2 separate regions of the Homo sapiens genome follow, and region 1 is linked to region 2. The links come from fine-mapping of genetic effects on gene expression. A gene starts in region 2. The other region holds a variant in brackets. All regions are shown on one strand. Distances are from middle to middle. Region 1 overlaps PPAT (phosphoribosyl pyrophosphate amidotransferase). Region 2 holds the start of AASDH (aminoadipate-semialdehyde dehydrogenase).

The links. PIP is the estimated chance that this variant, and not a neighbour inherited with it, causes the effect. A credible set is the group of variants that fine-mapping cannot tell apart.
Region 1: its variant is the best candidate, but not a certain one, in a credible set for the expression of AASDH in visceral fat (GTEx, PIP 0.50).

The regions. Positions count from the first base shown.
Region 1 is chr4:56,420,618-56,432,020 of GRCh38, reverse strand. All of the region lies in intron 1 of PPAT (phosphoribosyl pyrophosphate amidotransferase), which reads left to right. It also overlaps a transcript of PAICS not described here. Among named protein-coding and RNA genes, the nearest start is that of PPAT, 9.3 kb to the left of the region's middle. RefSeq lists an enhancer at 5,933-6,618. The variant A/C (reference allele first, on the strand shown) is at 5,110.
Region 2 is chr4:56,382,284-56,393,686 of GRCh38, reverse strand. AASDH (aminoadipate-semialdehyde dehydrogenase) reads left to right here and starts at 6,196. Exons shown (of 15, transcript NM_181806.4): 1 at 6,196-6,325; 2 at 9,346-9,617; 3 at 11,090-11,210. The coding sequence starts at 9,388. It overlaps PPAT (phosphoribosyl pyrophosphate amidotransferase), which reads left to right. Exons shown (of 11, transcript NM_002703.5): 11 at 1-325. RefSeq lists enhancers at 5,852-5,901, 5,764-6,270, 5,932-6,301, 6,271-6,778.

The sequences.
Region 1 (11,403 bases), 38 kb before region 2:
GATGTACTCCCCGTTTTTAGTAGTTCTGGCTGTCTTCAGATTTATTCCGTAGCTCTGCTTTCTGTAGGGGAATTTTCACATGTCCTCTTAGCTGTAAACTGTGCATGCATGTGTGTGGGTATGTTCATGCCTGATTTATATAATCACCAAATGCTGTTTTGGTCCTGAAAACATCATTTCAGTAGTTTGCGGAGTTCTGAACAAACCAGACACCCCTTCTTAGAATAAACATTTTCATCTTTAAAACACAGTCACATTTTATGGAGACTAGAATGGCCTGGACATATTTGAAGATTCCATAAAAGGAATTAGTAAATGTCTGTAGATTTATGCCATGAATCAGCTAATTAGCCTTTCCTTGATTAGGAGATAACCATGCCCTTCCATTCAATGAATTATCACTTCTCCTGGTTAGGAATTGAACCTTACAATGACAAACATTTTCATACTTCTAAAAATTTATAAGATTTACCTGATGAAGTTGGGTTTTCTGTCTGCAGAAACATTCTGTAGAATCTTTTGGTTCTGTTATTACGCTTTGAGGAAACTGATTTGTAATGATCTCAGGAGCACTTTTCTTAAGAGATTTAGACACTGGTTCTGCAAACAGAGTACAGAACATTACCACTGGAAAGGCACTTGTGAGAATGAGAGATGCACTCAGTCAGACTTATATGGATCTAGTTCCCAGTTAATCTTCATTTAGTTTTGTGGAGAACACAGGATTTGATTGTCAGAGAACTTACTTTGGGCTGCCAAATTAAGGCAGGGAATATCTTACTTAATTTTGATTTTCATATTTGACTGAAAATGATCAAATATGTAACATTCCTATAGTGTTTAACTTTTATACTCCCATAATCTATAACCTTTATCTGAGTCAAGTAAATTTTGGTTTGAGGGAGTGACTTATTTTAAGTGTCCTTGCAAATTGTTCCAGTCTTTGATTTTAGTTATTTTATAATTCAGTGATTCTTGCTTTAAAATAAGTGTTTTCAATCCTTCCATTTATAACTTTTTTTTTTAGAACTTAGCTTTTTGCATTAGTCTGAAGCAGAATTTACCTGCCCCCAAAAGTCTCCAAGTACCACTGCTTGGTCATTCTGGTCAATATTGGGAAGAGCTCCTTAACATACAAACTGAAATCTAGCCCCAGGTTTTCCAGTAACATCAGTTTAATCTTGGGCAAGTCTTCTAACTTCTGAGTCTGTTTCCTCATCTGTTGGCCTAGACTTATATATTGTAAGGTCTAATGTTCAAATTCAGTGGGTTCAGAATGATACTCTTGTGCGGTTAACCCTTAGCAGTTTAACCTGAAAGGAGAAACTGCTAAGGGTTAACCGCACAAGAGTTTTATCTGACTTGCATTTATATCCAGACATAGAAAAATACACTTTTCAGTTCACTTGAGATAAAAGGTTATAAGGGGAAAAGGAATTCTTGCTATTTGCTAATACTTTATTCAAAATGTATTTGTTGAGCAGAAGCTCAACAAATAGGAATAATGTACATCTAAGTATATTACTAAGGCACTGTGGTAGACACTGGGAATACTTTACCATACAGGGCAGATGTGGTCCCTGCCCTCGCAGAGACCTTATTGGTTCAGGAGCGTAGACTTCTCTATGCCTCAGTTTCCTCATCTGTACATTGGGTATAATAATAGCACCTACCTTATAGGATTGTGATTGGGACTAAATATGTTAATATATGTAAAGTGCTTAGAACAGTGCTTGGATATATGCATGCCCTATGACCCTGCCTTCCACTTCTGGGTATGTATTCAACAGAAATGCATACATATGTCCATTGAGAGACATGCAATTTTTCAAAAAAGCCCCAATCTGGAAACAGCTGAAATGTCCAACAGTGAAATAGATTTTAAAAAGTAATGGGATATACGTTTATTTATTAAGTAAATATTGAGATGGGGGGTTTCACTATGTTGCCCAGACTGGTCTTGAACTCCTGAGTTCAAGTGATCCTCCTGCCTTGGCCTCCAAGGCAGTGCTGGAATTATAGACCTGAGCCACTGCACCTGGCTGGGATGTATATTTTTACAATGGACTATTCTACAGTAATAAAAAATAACAGACTACTGTTGTGAGTAAAGTCATGGGTGAATCTCATAAACAATGTTGAATGAAAGAAAAGTACATATAGTATGAATCCCAAACTAATCTATGGTGATAGAAGTGAGAATAGTGATAATGTTTATGGGGGCGGAAGGATGATTAATGACTGGGAGGCTTTTAGGGTGCTAGTAAGTTTTATGTCCTGAATGGTGGATTTGGTGTGTCTACTTTGTAAAATTTTGTTTTACTCTTCAATTTTTTGTGTTAACTAAAAAACAATCTCATAAATTATAAATCTATAAGGCATTAAAGCTGGATTATTTTAGAGATCCAGAGAGATGCAGTGATTTGCTCTGTGTTTAGGAATTAGGGTCAAAGAGAGACTGGAGCTCAGGTTTTCTTATTAGTCTTATGTGCATTTTCTTTCTTCTACATGCTATATTGCATTATATTATCTTTTCTGATGTCTGTGATGGGTCATTTTGGAATTACAGCTCCCATTATTAGGTTGGCTTCTGAGTTTGACTTTCAGACTTATTAAAATGTTATATTGATTATTGACTACCTTTGAAGAACTGTGGATTTTTTTCTTTTTACATCTGATAACAATAATTGCAACAATCACTGTAAAGTACAATTTAAAGGACCATGATAACCAAACAGTTACCTAACTCCGGGCAAGTTTTCATTTACTTTCAGTGTTACTCTCACTCTTTTTTCTTTCTTCTTCTTTTAAAATATAAACTCTAGCTCCTGCAGGAACTTTCACTCAGTGAGCTATGAAATAAATTATTTCTCAGCATTCTCTGCTCTAATACAGTTCATAAACAATATATTTAGTCTAATTTATCAAGGACAGGAATAAATATCTCTGTTATCAGGAAAAAGCAACAAGTTGTTTCCACTGTGTGGAAGAACTTGTTATTTCTCTGGCTCTTACCATCTTCATGTGCTTTTCTCTTGAAGCTCAAAGTTCCTTGGCTTTTGTTGTGACCTTCAAATAATTCTTAAATAAAAACACAGGAAAAGAATCATTATGTGACATCATTTGAAACACATTAATGGTTTTCAAGCATTCAGGTATACTAAAATAAGAAAACTTAAGCAGATGGACAAATAAAGAATGAGTTAAGAATTAGGAATATTTTGGTACAAGGTTTAGAAAAAAGTTGAAACTCTTGGCTTAAATTAGGTACCTATTTTTAATGATTTTTAAGGGTCATTTGAGCATACAATAGTGTAAGGATTTCATTTTTAAAGAGTTTTTCTCTTGCTAAATGAAAATGCAAAGAGGAATGTCTAGAATTTTTTTTGTTAATGTCAATTCCAAAGTTACCATGTCTCCATTTGGCAGTTCTGAGAGTTGGTTTTCTTAGGATGCAGTCAACTTCTTCATAAAATCTCATTTTTCTTGGAGGGTTGCCATTTTTTCTTTGTAAAATGCTATATTCATATTTTACATTTTTATATTTCGTATGACATTGTTTCCGGTCTCTGTCTATCCCAAACTGCATTAATTAATCTTCTGGCAATTTCCTCAAATATTTTCTTGTTTCTTGTGGCCCCTTCAAGCATTCGCTTAATTTTTTCATCAGACCATATCAATGCTCTGACCTCACTGTCACACCAGTATTTTCCGGCCTCTGTGTTACTCACTGTTATAATCTGTAAATGACTTTTAGCATCTTCTAAAGGATTACCTACAAATCAACATGATTTATAATTATTCAAACATAGATAAATCTTGTATTTGATTATCATTCACTTAAAGCAACTGTGATGGCATAAAGTACCAAGAATACAATAATAACTTCAATATGAGTCAAAAGAAATTTTGTGTCCATATTCAAACAGTATATTCTAAAAATTATAAGACAGACTGTTCTCATTATTAGTGAGAAAATTTAGCTGCTTTTCATCATAGGTGATCTTCACTGGATATTTGTGAATATGGAAAGTCCCAGTGTTTACTAAATTTCTTTTAGTGAGAAGTGGGCATAGACATTTTCCTTCTTTCTCTACTGTATTCTCTACCAACTCAGGTATAAGGAAGCATTTTAGGTAATACACAATAGAGATCTTCTCTGTTAGACTTCATATATCAAAATGACATTTAAAATTTACCAATTTAGACCCTGCAGTGGACCCAGTATTATTTTGGGGTGATGATGTGCAGCAGGGGGTGACAGGGGGAAGGCATACTCCACAATGCTTTCTAACAGTGAGTTCCTCTCATCTTAAATTCTCCTAGGTTTTAATTCTGAATAATTTTTCAGCCTTATGAATTTTTTTTTTTTTTTTTTAAGAGACAGGGTCTCACTATGTTGCCGAGGCTGGCGTGGACCTCCTGAGCTCAAGCGATCCTCCTGCCTCAGCCTCCCAAGTAGCTGGCACTACAGGTGCCTACCACCATGCCTAGTGCCTCATGGAAATTTGAAAATGTGTTTAAATCACTCTTGTTGGATATAATTTTTAAAAGATGGTGATAGAAATGTAAAATGGTGAAGTCATGGTGGAAAACAGGTAGTTCCTCAGAAACTTTCAGCATATGCCATATGACCAAGCAATTCCACTCCTACATATAAACCCAGAAGAACTGAAAACATGTTCACATAAAAACATATACATGCTGTGGAAAAACAGTACTGCAGGTCCTAAAAAAATTAAACACAAATTACCATATGATCAACAATTTCGCTTCTGGGTATATACCCAAAAGAATTGAAAGCAGGGACTCAAGCAGATATTTATACATCCACATTCATAGCAGAGTTATTGATAATAGCCGAAAGGCAGAAACAACCCAGATAACCATCGATGGATGAATAAACAAAATGGTGTATCCATACAATGGAATATTAAAATGAAGGAAATTCTGATAAATGCTACAACATGGAGGAGCCCTAAAGATATTATAAGTGAAATAAGCCAGGCACAAATGGACGAATATTGTATGATTCCACTTATATGAGGTACCTAGAATAGTCAAATTCACAAAGATGGAAAGGAGAATAGTGGTCACCACAGGCTAAGG[A/C]GAGTTGGGATGGAGGAGTTATTGTTTAATGGCTACAGAAGTTTCAGTTTGGAATGATGAAAAAGCTCTGGAGATGGAGAGTGGTGATGTTTGCACAACAACGTGAACGTACTTATGGGTATAATGGTAAATATTTTATGTATATTTTACCAAAATGGGAAAAAAATTGTACCAGAATGTTCATAGCAACAGTATTCATAGGAGCCAGAAAATGGCAGTGACCCAAATGTCTGTCAGTTGATAAGTGGGAAAACAAAATATGGTATATCTGTAAATTGGAATATTATTCAGCCATAAAAAGGAATGAAATACTGATATATGCTACAACGTGGATGAACCGTGAAACAAAAGAAGCCAGACACAAAAATGTATATTGGAGGGTACCACTCATGTCCAGAATAGGCAAATTCTTAGAAACAGAAAGTTGGTTAGTGGTTGTCAGGGGTTACAGAGGTGTGGTCAAGCAGTTAAACTACTGATGGATATGGGGTTTCTTTCTTTTTTTTTTTTGAGACAGAGTCTTGCTCAGTCGCCCAGGCTGGAGTGCAGTGGTGTGACCACGGCTCACTGCAACCTCCGCCTCCTGGGTTCAAGTGATTCTCCTGCCTCAGCCTCCCGAGTAGCTGAGACCACAGGTGCGCGGCCACCACGCCCAGCTAATTTTTGTATTTTTAGTAGAGATGGGGTTTCACCATGTTGGCCAGGATGGTCTTGATCTCTTGACCTCGTGTTCTGCCTGCCTTGGCCTCCCACAGTGTTGGGATTACAGGCGTTAGCCACCGTGCCTGGCAGATACGGGATTTCTTTGTGGGGTGATCAAAATGTTCTAAAATGGGATACTGGTGATTATTGTATAACTGTGGATATACTAAAAACCACAGTTATACGCTTTAGTTGGGTGAATTTGATTGTATGTAAATCACATCTCAGAAAAGTTGCTGAGGTTTGAGAATAGAAAAGTAAAGACAAGTCAAGTGTAGAGGTTAATGCAGTGATGTCTGTGGGAAGTTATAAAGGAACTAAGGAAACATGAACTGCATTGTACGGAGCTTCCAAATCTTCCTCTAAGCCAGAGTTTTTATGATGTGATTGATTAAGTCATTGGCTGCAAGATGGAACTCAACCTCCAGCCCCACTCTCCTTCATGGAGGTCACACTGGCACAAAGCTCCAACCCTCATCACATGGTCGGTCTTTTTCGGTGACTACCCCCTATCCTGAAGCTATCTGGGAACCCACCTAGAGTAGCCTCATTAACACAACAAAGATGCCTCTGTCTCTGGAAGTTCCAAAGGTTGTTGATGCTTTGTGCCAGGAACAGGAGACCAAAACTAGATATATTCTTTATTATGCCACAGCTTCTTAAAAGTTTATTAAAATATTACCAACAGTACAAATTAGAAAAATCATGACTTCATAATAAACAAGTTGCCTGTATTTAAGATTAGCAGCATACCTATGTCTGAGCTTTCTTTTTTCACATTTGTAAGTCTTCGGTTTTCTGAAGTTTTAGTAATAAGTTCTTCTCTATCTGGATGTACTATTGGATTAAAATGAAAAGTTCTCAGTATTGTGTTTCATATGACTAAAGTGCATTAATTTATGTAATAATTTTACTGCTAAGATTATACAAATTATAATGCATGTAAAATATACAAAAGTGTTTAAATATTCCAGGTTTAAGGAAAATTACTTCCAATTTCTTTCTTTTGGAAGAGATAAATGAATTAGAAGAAAACATAATTCTTAGCGTACCCTTTGAGATGGTAACAGTAGATTCCTTAATGCCCCCTGCTGGCCATCTCATTGTGAACTTTTTGAATTTTGGAAATATGTTTTGCTACAACCAAAAGAAAAATGGGCATTTCTAGGGTTATTCTTAGATGAACATTGAGGTATTTCACTTGTGATTTTTAGGCTGAAGATCAGCGTGACCTCCTCTAATAGGATATATTTTACTACCATGAAACTTCTATGCTTATTTAAGTATGCTTGACTCCACCCCTCTGACCTAAAATAGGTTTAACTGTGACTGTCCTATACCAGAAAGCAGTGGCTTGCGGGAATACATAGATAATAAGGCATACCAGCTCATATAAATGGCAGCTGATATTGGAGCGGAATTAAGTCAATTTTGTTTCTCCTACTCAGAAGAGACAGGTAGGTGATAAGATTGTCAAACACAAATTTTCTCTTTTGGCAGAGTCCTTTCTCCTTTGATAACTTCTTGATTCCTTTTATCCTCTCTCGCTTATGCTTCAGACCAGGGAGAAAAATAAAATATGTTTTAGATCCAAAGATCTAGTTTATTCAATTTTCATGGGCCACTTCTTTTTACTTAACATAATAGGAATAGCCTGAGCAGTCTATGATTCTTCTCCGTGATTGATTTCCTTCATATTCCATTAGTCATTAATTTTTAAGTGATAATCTATCGGCATTAGCAAATTTTTCTTCCCTGAATGGAATCAAATTGAAACTTCTGTGTGAATCAGTCCTCTGCTGGTCTGAGCATGATAACCTAGCTACGGTTTCCAGTGCTGGCTATGCTTGAGAACCGTCTAAAAATACGGGTGCCTGAACTGACTCCAACCTGCTAGATCAAAACCTTCAGAAGTTCCAAATTGGGAACCACTCTAGATACTCAGAATCCAAGGGGTCTACAGCTGTAGCTGGATTTTCATTTGAAGTAAAGAAAAGCTTATGGCTTATAGCATACATTTAAGATAGGAAAGAGAATACTTTTGGGGGACTGGTTTTTTGGCCAGATATCAAAGTTAACAATATGGAGCTATTATTAATAATAGCAACTCCAATTTCAAAAATTCATCAGTGAAATACAAAAAATAAAAATGAAGTGACCTCTGTTTTTACATGTAAATACCCATCACTTTGTTGTTGTTTTAAAGAAAGACTATTTCATGTGAATTTTTTTCCCTGAAGATAAATAATTCATATTTTTATACCTCAATACTACGTTCTATTACATTCTTCCTAAGAGCGGAGTGGCAATTTGTGAATCAGTAGGTATATATTGCAGGTGTACCTAAAATCCTTGCCTGTTTAAGTTTTTTTCTTACGTATTTAGCTGCTGAGATCCTTGTGGGTTTATATCTTTGCTTTGAATTTTCATGTGACAGTTTAAAATAATATAATCTCTAGGATGACTATGCATTTGTCCTGTTTCACATTTTCTAAATATATTCCAAATATTTCATATTTGGCATGCAAACATGCCAAACAAAAAAAAAAACTTGTACTTTTGACTTAATCTTTTTCTTCTACATGTAAAAAATTATCTTGAGGTTGTACTTAAGTAAGTTTTCCAGAGGACTAACAAGCTAAAATCTTCTGAATACTAAAGCTCTTAACTTTTTAGATGGAAATCTTTTTTCCTTATTAAACAATGCAGTAATCTGATTTTCTTATTTTTTAAAATTTTATTTTTTATTTTTAGAGATGGGTTCTTGCTGTGTTGCCCAGGCTGGATTCAAACTCCTGGGCTTAAGTCATGCTTCAATCTTAGCATCCCAAGAAGCTGGGATTATAGGCATGTGCCAACTGCACCTGGCATAATTTGATTTTTAACTCTTAATGACAAAGGCCATAGCTGTGATGCCTATGGAAACCTAAGAATCTGTCCTGTCTGATAAACCAGAGAAATAAGTTTGCCAGGAGTATAGGAAATTTGATTAACTAGTTTGTTAAATTAACATTGAGCTTTACACTTTGTGAAGTTATATGAAGCTTTGGACTGACAGACTAGGTACAAGGTCTTTTTAACAGATATACTTCAGCTTGGGGGCTTGGTGATCTCCTCCTCCCCAGTTTTGGTTTGTGTAGAAGAGGCAAACTATCAGGTAGCAAGCACAAAATCTCACCTCCAAACCCTTAGTGCCCTATACCAGAGGGTAATGATTCTCAAACTTGCTTGCATCATTATAACCTGGAAGACTTGTTAAAACAGATTGCTAGGCCCCAACACCAGAGTTTCTGATTCTGGATGGGGCCCAAGAATTTGCATTTTGAGTAAGTTCTCAGTTAATGCTGATGCTGCTACACTTGGAGAAAAACAGCGATGGGGAACATTGCTTCCATTAATTATTTCCACCTTTCATTTATGTGTTTTGAGTTATGATCCAACAGTACTTCATATAATGTTATAACATAATTTCTTAGGTATGGTAGCGTCTATTAATATATAGATATAAAATCTAAAACCCATTATGAGGGCACCACTCTCATGACCTCATCTAAAGCTAGTTATCATTCAAAGGCCCTGTCTCCAAATACATCACATTGGGGGTTAAGGCTTCAATATATGAATATTGGTGGGAGGAACACAGTTCAGGCCATAGCAGTGTCTTATAATAGCATTTTATGTATATACTTTGTCACACACACACACACACACACACACACACACACACGTACAAAAAAAAAAAACCAGAATATTATTTTATGTGTGTCAAGACCTTGTTTTTTATCTGTATCTCCTATGTCTTCTGACTTATTACTGACTGAATCATCTTCAGCTACATCTCCAGCAATGACTGTATGAACATAAGGGGATATATATTGGCTTTTTAAATTTACTTCAGGATCGTGTTTTATTTATTTAGATTATTTATTTGTTTTTGAGGCAGAGTCTCACTCTGTTGCTCAGGCTGTGGTTCAGTGGTACGATTTTGGCTTACTGCAACCTCTGCCTCCCAGGTTCCAAGGATTCTCATTCCTCAGCCTCCCGAGTAGCTGGGATTACAGGCATGTGCCACCACACCTAGCTAATTTTTTGTGTATTTTTTAGTAGAGATGGGGTTTCACCATGTTGGCCAGGCTGGTCTCAAACTCCTGCCTCAAGTGATCCACCCACCTTGGCTTCCCAAAGTGCTGGGATTAGAGGCATGAGCCACAACGCCTGGCCCAGAATTGTGTTTTAAACTCTAATGCAGTATTTTCCTTTTTAAAGGGACCCTAATATTAAATATGATTAGTTAGATTCCCTACCCTTAAGCATCTTTTTGTCACTATAGATATTGGGTATGTATCTGAGTCTCTAACTAAGTCTTCTGACATAACTAATGGAATCATCTTTAGCTGCATCTCCAGCAATGACTGTATGAAGATATCATGCCACTGCTGTTGGGCTGCTTTATCTGTAGTCATCTAACTGGGGGAGATGTATAGTTCTCTAGCATACCAGTTTCTTTCTTGTCCACCAGCGAAATATTTTGAGATTTCTCACCAACATTTCCAGTCTTAACTGTCTGTGGTTCCCCTCTCTTCCCTAGACGCAGACTGTCTTACAATTGGGACTCATCATTTAAGCCAGATAATAAAATCCGGAGACACTGTGGTTAGTAGAGGTCTTTAAGACCATCTTGTCCACACCCCCCAATTTTGGAGTTAGGTCTACAGCAGCGGTCTCCAACCTTTTGGCACCAGGGACTGGTTTCACGGAAGACAATTTTTCCATGGACCAGGGGGTGAGGGGGCCATGGTTTTGGGAGGATTCAAGTGCATTACATTTATTGTGCACTTTATTTCTGTTATTATTACGTTGTAATATATAATGAAATAATTAAACAACTCACCATAATCTAGAATCAGTGGGAGCCCGGAGCTTGTTTTCCTGCAACTACATGGTCCCATCTGGGAGTGATGGGAGACAATGACAGATCATCAGGCATTAGATTCTCATAAGGAGCACACAACCTAGATCCCTTGCCTGCACAGTTCACAACAGTCTTCGTGCTCCAGTGTTCTAATCTAATGTGAGAATCTAATGTTGCCGTTGATCTGACAGGAGTCGCGGAGCTCAGGTCATAATGTGCATGATGGGGAGTGTCTGTAAATACAGATGAAGCTTGGCTCGCCCACCACTCACCTCCTGCTGTGCAACCCAGTTCGTAACAGGCCACGGACCAGTAAGGGTCCAGGTGTTGGGGACCCCTGGTCTAGAGAAGACACTTGGTTACTTCAAGCTTCCACAGAGCCTTACAACTTTGATTTCCTGAATCCTGGTCTAGAACTCATTCAGTTTATTTCATGCTATCATGTCTTAGTGTGTATGTACTGTATCTCAATCCTTTGGTTTAAATATACTTTAAAGACATTTATGATGGGTCTCAGAGAAATGTACTACTTCTAAGAAAGTCTCATGTATTTTATATTTTTCTAAGTTCTTCAATGCCCTTTTTCTATTTTACTCAATTTTACCACAATTAGTATGAAAATTTACTTTAACTTCTGCCATCTGGGGTTGCATATTTGCTTTATTAAAATTGATCTATTT
Region 2 (11,403 bases):
TCTGTAGTTTTTGTTTTACTGAGATGCTTTTGTAAAGGAAAATAATACTGTGACAGTTTAGTAATTCTACAGATTCTTAATATTTCTCCATCATGGCCTTTTACTTCACAATTTTCTGAAGTCTGAATTCAATTACAATTTTTTTTTACCAATTTAATCTCAAATGTTGTTTAACTGCTTTAAATTCATATACGTAGAGTATTATAAACTGCAGAGATGAAAAATGTGTTTTCACGGGATTTATATTGTGAACTAAACTAAGCCTACTTTTTGTGACTTATTTGTGATGCCTTGTTGATAAATATGTGTAATAAGTATGTTTAAATATGTGTGTCCTTTTTTTTTTTTTTTTAAATAGTGACTTTAGTTAGTGCTTTATGGTAAACAGCATGGAGACAACTTCCAGGCTCCATTCTTGGCACCAGCTAGTCATATCTTATTTCTCTGATCCAGGCATTTCAATAAATAGGCCATCTCTTATGAACCAGGCAAAACTGCTGGTTGACTATGAGGGACAAATTAAGTAATTAGAAAAGCAGTACTAAGTAAGCACTACATCGTGGCAAGTTCCTAGGAAGCACTATGGGGAAAGAGGGAGTGTCATGGAAGAGCAGGATTAGATTCAAAGTGTCAGGGTGGGTAGGTAAATGAATAGATAAACTGTAGTACATTCAGACAATAGAATATTATTCAGTGCTTAAAAGAAATGAGCAATCAAGCCATTAAATGACAGAAGGAACATAAATGCATATTAACTAAGTGAAAGGCACCACTCTGAAAATACCACTCTGAAAATATTGAAGGTATCCAAAGAAAAAGTCTCCCATGTTAAGGATAAACTGGTCACAGACAAGAAAGATTACTAGTAGGGCACCTGCCAGTGTTAAGAAAATTTCTGTGCAACTAGGTAAACCTTGGTCGCTGGACTGGATCTTTAATTCTTCTAGGTTCCTCCAATCCAACTTTCTTCCATAGAATTACTAAAAACGAGACTTGCTATGTTCTTAAAGCCCAAGCTCAAACTTAACTGAATTTTAAGGGAGAAATCTCATGCCCAAAGGTTCACAAAACTGCCCAATGCTATAACCAGAGACATTAAAACTGTAAACCAGAATGAAAAGCTAACATCTCCATACTGTGGGCAGCTTTTCCCAAGATGATGGAACATAACTCCCCATCCTAATGACACTCTTGCCCCTCTTAATTCTTCCTTGTTTATGCCTACCTCTTTGATTTGGCAGGATAATTTCACAATCGGTAGATATTGTGGGTGACTTGACAGAATCTGACTTCATAAATCCTTTAGTCCACCCAGGGGGTAATACTGGCAACATCCTCAGTAAACTTTTTGTTCAAATTGTACTAATGGTCTTTTTTAAAACAGAGTTAGCTCTCTCTGCTTTAATTCAAGCCAGTCATGGAATGCTAAGTAATAGGATTGCTGTGTACCAGCTAAACAAAGAGATGTCTGTGCTTTTGCTCATACTACATGCTGTACCTGGATACATTCCTTTGGGGAATTTATATACACAAAATAAGAAAATAGCCCACATGGTATAATAAGTCTCACCTAATTCTTCATGATCATTTGATTTATTCAACTGGTTGTCTTTAAGCCTAGGTTCACGGCTGAAAACTATTATGCTGAGATTGTTACTTTGTATTTTCTTTTTTTTTTTTTTAAGAACTTTATACCTGTTTCTTGTCAAATTTGCATAGAAATGCAACTCCTAAGAGAATAATGCTCTCCCAGCACTTTGAGATGATAGACAGTGCCTATGGAACAGACAGAATTGAACTTAACAGTGGACTCCAGGTAGACTTAGCCTGAGATCCACTCCCTCCAAACCTCTTTTGTTGTTCAAATGTGGCTAAAGGGTTTTGATGCTAATTCCTAGTTACCAGTGACTCCCTTCAACATGAGGGCAGACTGGCACCAAGAGATATCAAAACCTAAATACAGGATGATTGATCAGTGATGCTTTTGAGAAAGACCTTGATCAAAAGGGGAAATGTGAAAGTTGTCAGATTCAAAATGGAGTCACTCGTATTAAAACCCTGGCAAACGGAGCCAGGAAACGCCATGAAGGGGAAGGGTTCTCATGTACATATGGTTGATAACAAGAACTATCAAAAGACTACAAAAATTTACAACCTGCACAAAGGCCACCACAACCTTAAACACAACACACACACACACACACATACTTCTGCAACGACATCTGCCTAGCAACTGCCTATCTAACTTATGGACTGACACCACCCTTACCACGCTTGTTATTGTTAAAACAAACAGTGAGGTTTATTTTTATTTATTTATTTATTTTTTGAGATGGAGTCTCACTTCGTCACCAGGCTGGAGTGCAGTGGCGCAATCTCGGTTCACTGCAACCTCCACCTCCTGGGTTCAAGTGATTCTCCTGCCTCAGCCTCCAGAGTAGCTGGGACTACAGGCGTGTGTCACCATGCCAAATTAATTTTTATATTTTTCAAAGAGACGGTTTCACTGTATTGGCCAGGATGGTCTTGATTTCTTGACCTCGTGATCCACCTGCCTCGGCCTCCCAAAGTGCTGGGATTACAGGTGTGAGCCACCACCACTCCTGGCCTTCCAGTGTACTTCCATAGTTACATATTCTTTCCTCGTGCCCTGTGAAGAGGTGCCTTCCACCATGATTTTAAGTTTCCTGAGGGCTCCCCAGCCATGTGGAACCGAGTCAATTAAACCTCTTTTCTTTATAAATTACCCAGTCTCAGATATTTACTTAAAGCAATGTGAGAACAGACTAATACACCTGTCAAAACACCAAGCCTGAAAAACTCAACCACTAATTTGCTCTCTGCCTTCTCCTGAGCAGCTGAACACTTAGAGTAACTCACACAATGCCTTATTATCCCAACTGTGATATGTGGTACAACAGCACATAACAGGAGGACCTAACCTTGTTTCAGGTAGGGTCAAGGATTTTCCAAATTATTTTTGAACTTTTTAAGGAAACAATGACATTGACAACTGAGAGATAAGCCTTAAAATAAGTAGAGTGTGCCAGTCAAGGTACAAAATATCAGCAGGGTACAGGGTGGGCATTTGATATTTCCCTGCAACTGGAACAGTGTAAGTGGATGGAGCTGAGTAAAAAAAAAAATAGTTTGGGAAACAAGCGCCTAAGACATGAATCCCTGCTATAAGGGTGCTATTTAGTATAGGAGGTCAGATTTGGAAATAATGCAGCAACAGTAACAACTGATGCTGTAAGAAATATATGTCGCTGTCTGGGAAGGGTCTGGTATTGAAACCTATTTTAAAGTTAGTAAGATAGCCTGTTAACTGTTTTATGGCAGTAAACTTGGATTCCTGGGTGACAAAGAACTTTGTAATTTATGGCAAAAGCAGAAGCCAGAACTTCATGTTTATGCATTTTCCATGTCCCCCAAGTCCCACCAGGATGGTGAAGATGGGCTTCCATGGATGTCTGCACATGCAGTCAGTGGGTTACATTATAGGAGAGGAATACTGAGTTTGGGGGATTCCATACTTTTGTAGTTAAGTGGAAGCAAGCCTACTCTTTGGGAAGAATACTTCAGCTATGAAACTGATCATCCCAAACAACCCTGAAAAATGATCTAGGTAAAGAGCAGTTAGGACCTTACATTCTTGGCAAACCCAGAATTTGCAGGTCCCATGACAAATGACCCCTCCCAAGAGTATGATGGGTTCGTGGGATGGAGTTTGGAGGAGTCTGGATAAATTATTCTTTAGGGCTTGAAGAAAGGCATCACTGAGGAAGTCATGTTTAAGCTGTATTTTCATCAAGCAGGCATGGAGAAAGAAGGGTATTTCAGCCTGAGCCCAGCCAAAACAGGTGTGGAAACATGATAAGGACTTTGTATTCTCAGAACTCTTACTAGCCTTTCATTATGACTAGAGTTTACAGTATCAGGTGTGGGGAATGTGGAAGATGGGTGGGGGAGCAGTGGCCTGCTGTGAGATATCAGGTTGGAAAGAAAATGAACTCTCTTGTTTACCTTGCTGAAGAGTCTGAATGTTATGCAGGCAACGAGGGATCATTGAAGCTTCTTATTCTCATAGAAGAATGCTATGACTGATCTGGTATATGTTTTAGAATGATCACCTTGGATTATCAGGTAAAAATGCTGTCTTAAACATAGTGTTCTACATTTGCTCCCTAAGACTCCCTGAAAATGACAGTAACAGGATTTTTAAAGTCATACACCCTTAAGGATTAAAGAAAAGGAATAATGGAAATGAAATTCTGGAATCAATAGCAAAGGGCTCAGTTGACTTGAAAAACCTGAATTCTAAACCCCCAGTGAGCAAAACCAACAAGCAATTCTATTTGTATCACAGAACCCCCTAAAAAACTAAGAAACTGGCTTCAGGAAGTAGAAGTGAAGAGGGTACCTAAAAGGACTGGAAGTTCATTTAGGAGAGTGTTATATCCTTTATGCCACCCCCGGCCCCCGCCTTATTCTGAAGCCTTTTTTTATTGCTCAGGAGTAAAACGGGGTCTCTGTAATGGAGGACATCAGGCACCTAAAACAAAGAGAATTAAGTGAAAATTGTACTAAATTCTGAGACATACCGCAGCCTCCATACCCCTCCTCTCCCACTTGATTTTCAACAAACGTCCCATGGGCTCAACAGCTTCCAATCAACTTTTAAATATACCCCCACTTACATATGAGCAGATAAGGACCACCAGACATCCTAGGAAAGCCTCTAATGTGAAAGATAGAGCACAAAATCAACAGAAGAAAAAAAAAGGAAACTTGAGGGAAATAGATACTGCAAGGGAAGAAAAACTTTAAAAAAGGTATCATTAATATCAGAGAGTTGGATGATGATACTGGAATAATAAAACATCATTTTGGCAGCAATTCAGAGTCAATCAGAGGCAAACAAAACTGAAAACGTTTTAGGAAAAAGCTGACCAAGAAGACCTGAACTAAAGTAGCAGTAATGGCGATGAACATGACACTTAAAAAACGCAGGTTCTAGGCCCCTCACTAGAAAACTAGGGGATGAACCTCCGGGGATGGAGTCCAGGAATTTGGAATCTTCTAAAACATCACCACCGGCAATTCTGATGTAGCCAGCTGGGTGCTGGTCTCAAGACTGAGAACTAGAGGACATAGGGTCTAATCGGATGTAAGAGGTTAAGAAAGTGGGAAGGTTGATAACTGTCTGGCTGGGTGGATGATGGTGTCATCCCAACGTAGAAACATAGAAACATAGACAAGATACACTTTTGCCCACTTCCAACCTAAATACATAAATAAGGCTGTGTTAGTTTGAGTAGTCCATGGTACATCTTGGAAAAGTATAGTTGGCATGTGGAGATATTTTTTGCTTAGATTAGAAGCACAGTTTCTTGTCACCAACAACTACGGCTGCGAGAGCGTCCTATGCTTTTTTCTCACGTACTGTTTTGATGCAGAGCTGTCTTCGCAGTCCCTCCCCCGGCTAAAACCCCCCAAACAAAAAAATCCCGATTATTCTGCCACCAGACAGTAGCTTTAAAACACCTCTGTTATTGCCCTTGACGCTTATTGTAATAATTGACATGTCTCCAACTGTAACAATTCCCTTGGAAACAGAAAGTTCTATTCAGGCATATAGTTTACAAAACTCCACCTCGGACCTGCTTTAATTTCTTTACAGGTCCTACTAAATGCTCCTGTCAAATTCCTTAGTTATCGTTTCAATCTGCTTCCCAATTAAAATGTCAGCATCATGATGACAGGAACGTCGTTTGCAGGCGTCACTGCTGCAGCCATATCTCCAGCACGTTTCCAGAAAATGTCATTGGTTGAAAGCAATAACTCTCCTATTTCACAATGATTTCATCTCTCTTCACATCAACCCTAGGTGATGTTTTTATTCTCACCTTATGAACGAGAATACTGCGGCTCAAAATTCAAGAGTCTTGCCCAGAGTTTTTTGGCAAGTACGAAAGGGTTATGGCTCCAAACTGGTTAGCTCCGAAGTCCTTGCAAACCCTGTCCGAGACCATGCGCGACCCCAAGGAGCGCCTGAGCAGATAACCAAAAGTGAAAAAGCCTATAGACCTCTTCACTCAAGTTAGCGCCTCGGCTTCAGGAGAGGCAGCGCCAGCTCCACGCAGCCGGCCCGGGGTCGCTCGCACTGACGTCACGTAGCGACGCGGAAGATTTACGTATGGTGCCTCGCTCTGGGATAGCTTTACGGCTTCTGGGAGCTGCTGCTTCGCTGTGAGAAGTATCCGCGACGAGCTATCCGGGAAAGGGCCGAATGCGATCAAACCTAATCCGCGAGACTTGCTAAGTGAGTCGCGGCAGGGCGCGGTGTCCGGCGGGGGTCTGTGTGAAGGAGGCGAAGTGCCGCTAGGCCTGAGCCTGCTTCCACATACATTTGCTCAGCTTCAGGACCACTGCCTGACCTCGGATTTGATACATCGGGGTCTGGCGTGCTGGTGTGGTGCAGACTAACCCTGACCTGTGTGTACACTCCTGCGTCACTAGCCTCCGCCCCTCCATTCAAATGGAAATAAGTGTGCTCCGCGCTCAGCTACCCCCTAGAGTGGTTTCGAAGAGCAATGAAGAAATGTTTAGGAAGCTGTAAATTGCATTGTTACTCGTTGCATACCGTAAATTTAGAAGCCGGGGAATTGGGAAAATAAAGTTTCTAGATTATTTATCCATTTTTAAAACAGCCAGTGGCCTAGAGAGAGGCCCCATAGCAATTGAATTTGCTGACACTCTTAAGATCTTTGTTGACTAAATAGCAGCTTCTACAGTTGTAGCAAGTAAATTTATTCCTTTTACATGTAAAATCTGCTTACCAGAGTTTGCTTTTTTTTTTCCTTTTTTTTTTTTTTTTTTTTTTTGAGACGGAGTCTCGCTCTGTCGCCCAGGCCGGACTGCGGACTGCAGTGGCGCAATCTCGGCTCACTGCAAGCTCCGCTTCCCGGGTTGACGCCATTCTCCTGCCTCAGCCTCCCGAGTAGCTGGGACTACAGGCGCCCGCCACCGCGCCCGGCTAATTTTTTGTATTTTTAGTAGAGACGGGGTTTCACCTTGTTAGCCAGGATGGTCTCGATCTCCTGACCTCATGATCCACCCGCCTCGGCCTCCCAAAGTGCTGGGATTACAGGCGTGAGCCACCGCGCCCGGCCTTTTTTTCCTTTTTAAGGTCTCAAACATTTGGGCATTAATAAGTTTAGTATTCTCTACTGCAGAGAATGTTATTTGTGATTCAATGAATGAAAATGAAAACCTGAGACAAGAAGAATGGATTTTACCTTAAATGTCTGTAGCAACCATTGGGAAAATGGAAAGAAACATCTTAATTATCGTATAGATGTGTAGGTACCCTTCTGCGCTACCTGTATGTTGCGAAATGAACTCATTCCTCATAATTTAAGCGCCTGCTGCAGAAAGCCTCCCTTATATTTACATAATGATCATTGTATGTCTGAGGAAAGCTTAAAATTGTATCTTGTGCATTAAAAAGAGCTAATATTTATAGAAATGCCTACTAAAAATAAATAATGTAAGTACTAAAGTTGCCTTATATGTTTAAACTGTATATTTAGAAATCACAGCATTTTCAAACTTATGGGTCTTGGCAGTTATTGGTTCATTTTACTCTCTTTAGGATTTCTTTTTCCTAATTGATGTTAATTAGTTGATATAAATGAAAATTTTGAGTCAGGAAATCAATTCAAATAGGTGTGAATAAATTAAAAAAAAAAAAAGAAAGAAAAGAAAACTTGACTCGGCCGGGCGCGGTGGCTCCGCCTGTAATCCTAACATTTTGGGAGGCCAAGGTAGGTGGATCACTTAGGTCAGGAGTTCAAAACCAACCTGGCCAACATGGAGAAACCCTGTGTCTACTTAAAAAAAAATAACAAAAACAAAAATTAGTTGGACATGGTAGCGCGCACTTGTAATCCCAGCTACTCGGGAGCTTGAGGTGGGAGAATCGCTTGAATCTGGGAGGCAGAGGTTGCAGTGAGCCGAGATCACGCCATTGCATTCCAGCCTGGGGAACAGAGCGAGACTGTCACAAAAACAAACAAAAACTTTACTGAAGCAGGCTACTTGGTAAGTCTTAATTGCTTTAAAATATGGAAAACAGAGTTCAGAGAGGGAAAAAAATAACTTTCACCTTTAAGGAAACACTGTGAATTTTTTTTACCGTTGATCCCGAGTGTTTCTTTCTTGAAATACTGTTTCGAATCTTTTAATATAATCTGCATTAAGAAACCCAGAGAACATTGCATTGATATACTGCTTTATTGAGTTGTAATATTATATTTTCAGTCTAAGTGAACTTATTGGCAATTTAAAAATAAACTATACAGTATGAAGAGTTTACTTCTTGACAATTATACAAGTATGACTTCTGTAAAATATTAATAGTATAGTAATAAACACTGTTTTTATATATAGTTGTCTAGAACTGAATGAATAGGAATAGGGTTTTTTGCTTTCTTCTGTCAAAGATTGATTTTGCTTTCATCTGAGTTTAGCTCCTACTGGAATTTAAAAGCAAAGTTTATTTACATTAGTCATTTTATTTTATCTTTATTTCATTTACTTATTTATTTTGAGATGGGGTCTTGCCCTGTCACCCAGGCTGGAGTGCAGTGGTGCCGTCTTGGCTCACTGCAACCTCTGCCTCCTGGGTTCAAGTGATTCGCCTGCCTCACCCTCCAGAGTAGCTGGGATTACAGGTGTATGCCACCTTGCCCGGCTAATTTTTGTATTTTTAGTAGAGACAGGGTTTCACCATGTTGGCCAGGCTGATCTTGAACTCCTGACCTCAAGTGATCCACCCACCTCGGCCTCCCGAAGTGCTGGGATTACAGGTGTGAGCCACCGCACCCGGCCACATTAGTAATTTTAAAGTCACCATACAAGATTTTGACTACTCTATCTTAACAAATCTGTAACAGTTACTGAAGGAAAGTAAAAAAAAATTAAGTGTGGGGTCCTTTAAATTTGATTTTATTGATTAATTTTTTATATATTTCATATTTACATTGTGGTCCGTTGAGAGAGAAGTCTCCATTTTTACCTGCTTCATTTTCATCTGTGTATACCACTGCCCTCCCAAATTTTTTTGATGCTCTGACCCAGCATAGGTTGATGTATCAAGTTAATTTTCAACCTCATTGTCCTCAGTAAAGTTACCATAATTTCATAAGTTCAGAGATTCTTCATTTATATATCTTTGATATAATTATTTTTGTGAGATATTATTGTAGAGAAGTTTTTCCCTGTCCCTCCACCGAGCTCTCTAAAACTCCCTCTCCCCCTAACACTTCTGTATATACACAGGGTTCTGTGCTACAAATTGATGTTTAGATAAACTTCAGTGAAATGACTCTTCAGGAATTGGTGCATAAGGCTGCCTCCTGTTATATGGACAGAGTAGCTGTATGTTTTGATGAATGCAACAACCAGCTTCCAGTTTACTACACCTACAAGACTGTGGTTAATGCTGCTTCTGAATTATCAAATTTTCTGCTGTTACACTGTGACTTTCAAGGAATTCGGGAAATTGGTCTCTACTGCCAACCTGGGATAGACTTACCCTCTTGGATTTTAGGGTAATATTTTTTAGAACTGTAAATTTGATGTTACTCCAAGCTAATGTAAATTTTTAATAGAGTATATTGCAAGTTATTGTTCTGTTTACTATTGGACTTTTCTATATTGTTTGGTCAATTGTAGAGAGACTAAAGAAGTTTGCATTTCCCCAGTATTATTTTTATATTATTTAAATTAATTATTCTGAGCTTATTTAGGAAAGACTAGAAGCTTTCACTAATAGAACGTATAAGTATCTCCAAAATGTAAGGGCTTCATTAATCTGTTAAAGGAAAACAATTATAACAATTTATAACACTTTGTTGTTAGATAAAAGAAAACAGGATTTCACAGATAACATGACTATGTTTTTTGTCCGCAACTGAAATTTGAGGCACTAAGGTATTCAATAAATCAGTAAATTAGAGTTTTGGATAATAGTTGATATAGATTGAAATATGAACCCATTAGAAGACACTATTCCAACAAATATTTGCAAAATGTTCAATCATTTAAATTGTTCTAGAATGTTATCCTCATATAGTGATTTCTATTCTAGAACTCTGCAGTAAGTATAAACTGCCAAAGAAATAGTTTATTCATTCTATAATATGTGTCTTAGTAAATTAATTATATAAATATAAAGCAAAAGATGTTCAAAAATTTACTTTTGGCCAGGCACAGTGGCTCACACCTGTAAATCCCAGCACTTTGAGAGGCTGAGGCTGGAGTATTATTTAAGGCCAGGAGTTCGAGACCACCCTGGTGACTTCACAAGACCCCATCTCTATAAAACAAATAAAAACAACAACAAAAATTTACTTTCACTCAATTATTGACGAAATTTATTGAGAATTTACTATGTGCAAAGATCTAGTGTCCTTAAAGTATACCTGAAACTACTTAAAATGCTTAACTTTAAAAAAATCTTGTATTTCTCTATATTAAGTGATAAGAATTTAACATAGTAAATACTCAGGATTTTCATTAAGAAAAGATAAAATGACAGTGTTTATGTATTTATTTATTTTTGAGATGAAGTTTCACTCTTATTGCCCAGGCTGGAGTGCAACGGCGTGATCTCGGCTCACCGCAACCTCCGCCTCCCGGGTTCAAGCAATTCTCCTGCTTCAACCTCCCAAGTAGCTGGGATTGCAGACGCCCGGCTGATTTTGTATTTTTAGTAGAGACAGGGTTTCTCCATGTTGGTCAGGCTGGTCTCCAACTCCCGACCTCAGGTGATTCGCTCGCCTCAACCTCCCAAAGTGCTGGGATTACAGGCGTGAGCCACCGTGCCCGGCTAAAATGACAGCGTTTATTACCAACTATGTGTCAGTGAAAACATTGGAAATTTCTGATCAGCAATAAAGTGCTCCGGAAACCATTTTTATGCTGCTACAAAAAATAAATAAAGTGCATAGAGAAATAGAAATGCTTAAACAAATACTAAATCAACAGACATTCTATGCTGACTGTGTACTTTTTTCTTTAGAATTCTCCAAGTCCCGGCTGCTTATGTACCTATCGAGCCAGATTCACCACCGTCATTATCAACTCATTTTATGAAAAAATGTAATCTAAAGTATATCCTTGTTGAAAAAAAACAAATTAATGTAAGTCTGGATGTTTCAATTGTTTTTTGCCTGTATTACATTTATTTCAATTGAAACATTCCTTCCTTCTCCCATCTGGATTCCTAAGTCTGCTAAATGTGGCAAGGTTTCTCAGTCTTTGCACTATGACATTTTTAGGGTTGAGTAATTGTTGTGAGGAGTGTTCCGTATATTATAGGATATTTAGCAATAT